Regions from separate parts of the Homo sapiens genome. Here region 2 is linked to region 1. Evidence: fine-mapped expression QTL. A gene starts in region 1. The other region holds a variant in brackets. All regions are shown on one strand. Distances are from middle to middle.

Region 1 (2,903 bases):
GGGCTGAGATGAGAACTAAACGGAAAAAATGATGTAAAATGTCTAGCTCAGTGCCTGACTTATCATAAGCCCTAGAAAGCTTTCATGAGAATATTATATAACATATGGAATCTACATACTGTATGCAATCTATACTATATTATGTATATTTAGTGTGTATTGCATATAACATAATCTATAGTGTATGCTGTAACATATATACCATACAATGTATATATAAATATGTACAAGATTCATAAAGTTTAGTATATATCAATAGCTATTATTTTTATTAACATAAACAGTCATTAGCCCCTCCAGACAAATCAGAAATGATGGTGTTAAAGCTTAAGTTGGACTGCAAAAGATTTTTAAGAAACAAACTAGAGGCTTACAAAAGAATTTACCAGGGAAGGATTTGCCAACACTTGGGGCAAAAATGACTGAGACACGTAATTGAAAAGCAGGGCGAGGAAACAGAATGTCCCTCCCCTCCTCCCTGGCTGGTGGTAGTTTTGTATTGGATCAGGTTGAAAGGATTCGAGCCACTTTAAAACAATCAACAAAAATCTCCAACTTCCGTTCCTGAATTAGCAAAGCGAGTTCTACTCTTGCCAGCCGCGGTAACTCTAGAAATTGTGTATGTTTGTCACTGGACCTGCCTAGGACGCACCTTGGGGGAGAGGGGGAGTACTGGGGGCGGTGGTTTCAAGCTCTGTGTGCCCCTCCTTTGCACAAGGTAGTCGGTGTAGAAGAACAGAGGCGGGCAGTGGACATAGGGGAGGTGGCCCAGCCTGAATTCAAGCATCGTTGGTGCAAGCCACGCTCTCAAGGCGCATTTCCTAACTTCCTAAAGAAGTAACAACAGCAACTAACTTTTATTGACTGTTGACTATAGACAAGGCTTCGTTGTTGCCGCTTTACGTGCATTAATTCATTTAATCTGCAAAACAACCAAACATGAAACAGCAGGAAGGAAATTCTACAAACTCCCCTTCTTGCTCAAGTTAAGAAAGTCTCCTCTTCTGGTGCATTTCAGTAAGACTCAAATCCTCCCCACCCTGGGAGGCGCAGAAAGCCAAACTTCCTCCAAAAAAAAAAAGGCAAAAAAAAAAAAAAAATCACTTCAGTCCAGGCTGGGGGTATCTGGCTCCCCGGGAGGCGCCCGGGCTCCCCGGGGCCCTGGCAGACGCCGGCAGCTTTTCTGGGCCCGCACTCGGGGACCTCGCCCGCCCGGCATCGCGATTGTGCAAGCGCCGGGCGGCAACCACGGCCGCCGCTGCCGGCTCCTGCCCGCCGGGGGAGGGCGGGGAGGCGCGTTCGAAGCACACCCGGTGAACTCCGGGCTTCGCATGACTTCCTGGGGGTTATCTCCGGGGTGGAGTCTGCCGCCCCCACCCCACCTCCCGCGCCCAGCGAACATAGCCCCGGTCACCCCAGGCCCGGACGCCCTCGCTCACCTCGCTGACTCCATCCTCCTTCCACCCCCCCTCCCCTGGGTCCCGCGTCCCTCGGAGTCTGGCCAGCCGGGGGCCACTCCGCCCTCCTCTGCGTGCTCATTGGCCACCCAGGGCATGCTCTGTCTCCATAAATGCATGGTCCCTGGGCATAGGAACATGGAGAGGGACAGGAGGAAACGCAGCGCCAGCAGCATCTCATCTACCCTCCTTGACACCTCCCCGTGGCTCCAGCCAGACCCTAGAGGTCAGCCTTGCGGACCAACAGGAGGACTCCCAGCTTTCCCTTTTCAAGAGGTCCCCAGACACCGGCCACCCTCTTCCAGCCCCTGCGGCCAGTGCAAGGAGGCACCAATGCTCTGAGGCTGTCGCGTGGTGCAGCGTCGAGCATCCTCGCCGAGGTCCTTTCTGCTGCCTGTCCCGCCTCACCCCGCTCCATCACACCAGCTGGCCCTCTTTGCTTCCTTTTCCCAGAATCGTTAAGCCCCGACTCCCACTAGCACCTCGTACCAACCTCGCCCCACCCCATCCTCCTGCCTTCCCGCGCTCCGGTGTCCCCCGCTGCCATGAGCTCCCCCATCAGCAAGAGCCGCTCGCTTGCCGCCTTCCTGCAGCAGCTGCGCAGTCCGAGGCAGCCCCCGAGACTGGTGACATCTACGGCGTACACGTCCCCTCAGCCGCGAGAGGTGCCAGTCTGCCCGCTGACAGCTGGTGGCGAGACTCAGAACGCGGCCGCCCTGCCGGGCCCCACCAGCTGGCCACTGCTGGGCAGCCTGCTGCAGATTCTCTGGAAAGGGGGTCTCAAGAAACAGCACGACACCCTGGTAAACCCCTTTTCGCGCCCCTGACTCTCTCCTCCCTCTTCCGCCCTCCCAGTGGCGCTCCAAACCCTCCCCGACATGCGCGCCTCGGGCGCATGGTGCGCTTCGGCGTCTGGGCAGGGAGGGTCCCCGGTCCCCTAGGAGGAAGGAGGCGGGAGGAGGGAAAGCGCTTCGGGCACGGCGGAGGATGCGCGCTGACACCGCGCTGTGCCCGGCCGGCTGCAGGTGGAGTACCACAAGAAGTATGGCAAGATTTTCCGCATGAAGTTGGGTTCCTTTGAGTCGGTGCACCTGGGCTCGCCATGCCTGCTGGAAGCGCTGTACCGCACCGAGAGCGCGTACCCGCAGCGGCTGGAGATCAAACCGTGGAAGGCCTATCGCGACTACCGCAAAGAAGGCTACGGGCTGCTGATCCTGTGAGTCCAATCCGAGGGACCTGGGCATGCGGCCAGACCTGATGAGCCTGACGGCGCCTGGAAATTGTGAAGAGGCGGAGTTAGAGTTCCCTGGGGTTGGAAGCTTCTTACGTAGGGCGGATACCAAAGCCCCTCTCCCGTGCCATCGCAACCCTGAGCTCTTGTACAGATTAGAGTCGGTCCACGGAAAAGCCGTGCTGTGCACCCAGCACCTGCGTTCTCTCTGGCAA
Region 2 (2,903 bases), 930 kb before region 1:
TAGGAGAAACTGATAACTTCTACTATTATGGTTGGAGACTTCAACATCCCCCATCAGTAATGGACAGGTCAGGTAGAAAATCAGTACGGGCATAGTTGAACTGAGCAGCATCAACAACAACTGAATCAAATTGGCGTTTATGGATAACTTCTTCCAACTACAGCAGAATACACATTCTTCTCCAACGAACTGGAAGGCTTCACCAAAACAGATCACATTCAAGGCCATGAGCCACATCAAAACAATTTTCTTTAATGGAAATCATACCAAACATACCCTAAGACAACAATGGAATTAAATTATGTATCAACAAAAAGATAGCTGGAAAACTGCAAATAGTTGGAGAATAAGTAACTACTAAACAACACATGGGTCAAAGAAGGGTCTCAAGGGAAATATATATGTTGAACTAAATGAAAATAAAAATACAACTTACCCGAGTGAGTGTCATACAAAAAAAAAAAAAAAAAAGGGGGGGCAGTGCTTAGGTGGAAATTTAGGTGGAAATTCATTTATCTTGAATGCATATATTGAAAAAAAGAAAGGTCTAAAATCAATAATCTAGGCTTCCGTCTAAGGATAGTAGAGAAAGAAGAGTAATATAAACCTAAAGCAAACAGAAGAAAATAAATAACAAAAATTGGAGCAGAAAGTGATGAAATAGAAAATAGGAAACCAATAGAGAATATTAACAGAAACAAAAACTGTTTCCTTGAAAAGATCAATAAAATTGCTAAATTGCAAGACATCATCAAGATGGTGAAACAGAGGCTCTCAGTGCTTGACTCCTGCACAAAGAGAGACTAAAACAGTAAGTAGACAAAGGTACATCCAGTAGGACATTTCGAGAGAATGCTGGAATCCAGTAGGTAAGGGACATTTCTGTGGCTTTCAGACCCAGTGAGGCAGCTGACCAGATTGATTTGGGAAGGAAGAGGCTCCCTATTTCATGGGAGGGGTAAGTGAAAGATCCTCAGCAGTGCACATTCCTGCTGCAGATTCCCACAGTCCTAGCTGCAGGAAATTCCCTGGGTGCCAGGGACCCTGAGCCCAGTATAGTGGGATGTCGGGAGTCCACGTGACTGCATTGCTCCAGAGAGAGCAACACAGCGTTATTTTGACAGCAGATCCAACAGTGAACTACATCCTGCCTTGGGGCCCAAAAGCCCCTGCTTTCCACATCCCTGGGGCCTCACAACACTCTCTACCTCCACTCTTAGGGCTGCAGAGCGCCGCTGGCTGGACCCAGTGGTACTGTCCAGATATTGGCAGCAGAGCCCATGCTGTTGCCTATGTGCCAGTAAGCAAGTGGTTTAGCATATCAGGGAGGTGCCCCCAGGACACAGGGAACAAAGTGTGTGCTCCCCAGCCTGAGAGCAGCCCATCCACTGTTACCACTACAGCAGCTACCCCATCACCTCCAGCAGCTGGGCCACTACTCACTCGTTACCTACAGCCAGGGACCAGGGAGCCAGCCTGCCTGCTCCACCAAGGACACTGCTGGAGCCCATGCATGCTGCCTTCCAGGGACCCCAGGACTGTAACACCTGGCCTGCAACCACCACCACCACCACCA[C/T]CACTACCACCTGTACCCAAACTCCCTACCTGGGGACTGAAAACTGGCCTGCTCTGCAACCCTGTCCCCTGAAAAGACTCACCACGGCCTCCATAAACAATAGAAGCCTAAGCTACTAAGGAACTTGCAGACACTGTTAACAATGAGTACAACCAAAGTAATCATAAGGAGACTATACTGTGGGGCCCAACCAGTACCAAAGCAAAGCACCTTACCAAATCAACATTATAGGTTCATCCAAAAGAGAGACTTTCCCCATGGAAGCTATAATATCAAATTGAAAGAAGTGACAGCATATTAGTCCATTTTCATACTGCTATGTAAAAATACCCTGAGACTTAGGAATTTATAAAGAAAAAGAGATTAATGGACTTGCAACTCCACTTGGCTAGGGAGGCCTCACAATCATGGTGGAAGGTGAAGGAGGAGCAAAAGCAGGTCTTACATGGCAGCAGGCAAGAGAGCATGTGCAGGGGAACTGCCCTTTGTAAAACCATCAGATCTTGTGAGACTTATTCTCTATCACGAGAACAAAACGGGAAAATCTGCCCTCATGATTCAGTTACCTCCCACCAGGTCCTTCCCACAACATGTGGGGATTATGGGAGCTACAGTTCAAGATGAGATTTGGCTGGGGATGCAGCCAAATCATACCAGTTACACCAGATGTGCAGATACCAATGCAAGGACACAGGGAACATGGAAAAGCATGGAAACACTGACACCTTCAAAGGAACACAATAGTTCTGTAATGAGTTCTCAGTGGCATCTTCTTCCACTATAAGGTTGTTTGATTTACATGGAAAATCTGCTGTTTAGTGTTGCCACCTTCATTAATGATCTTAGCTAGAGCTTCTGAATAACTTGCTGCAGCTTCTCCGTCAATACTTGCTGCATCACCTTGCACTATCATGTTTTGGAGATGGCTTCTTTCCTGAAACCTCAAGAACCAATCCTGGACAGCTTCAAACTTTTATTGTCTGGCTAATTAATATAAATCCTGGCCAGCTTCAATCTTTTATTCTCCAGCTAATTAATAGAAATTAGCACAAACTTTGAGGAAATTACACACAATATCCACTCAGCTGAACACATGCAAACCTGCAACAGGCAACCTCTGAGACTGCTCAATGACCCTCACCTTCTGGAACTTGTGCCCCTATATACTTGTGGTAAACTATCCCTTGAGTGTAAGCTGTAGCCCGTGACTTACTTCCAAATAACAGAATGGAGCAAAAGTGATGAATGTCATTTCCAATATTAGGTTACAAAAATATTCTGGGACTTCTCCTTCTGGGAAGATGGAATAGATGTTTTTTCCCCTATA

Evidence for each region. PIP is the estimated chance that this variant, and not a neighbour inherited with it, causes the effect.
Region 2: its variant is fine-mapped to the expression of CYP24A1 in whole blood (TOPMed, PIP 0.94).

Annotation. Positions count from the first base shown.
Region 1 is chr20:54,172,679-54,175,581 of GRCh38, reverse strand. CYP24A1 (cytochrome P450 family 24 subfamily A member 1) reads left to right here and starts at 1,596. Exons shown (of 12, transcript NM_000782.5): 1 at 1,596-2,260; 2 at 2,483-2,673. The coding sequence starts at 2,003. RefSeq lists an enhancer at 1,373-1,966.
Region 2 is chr20:55,104,679-55,107,581 of GRCh38, reverse strand. No RefSeq gene overlaps it. Among named protein-coding and RNA genes, the nearest start is that of LINC01440, 320 kb to the left of the region's middle. The variant C/T (reference allele first, on the strand shown) is at 1,577.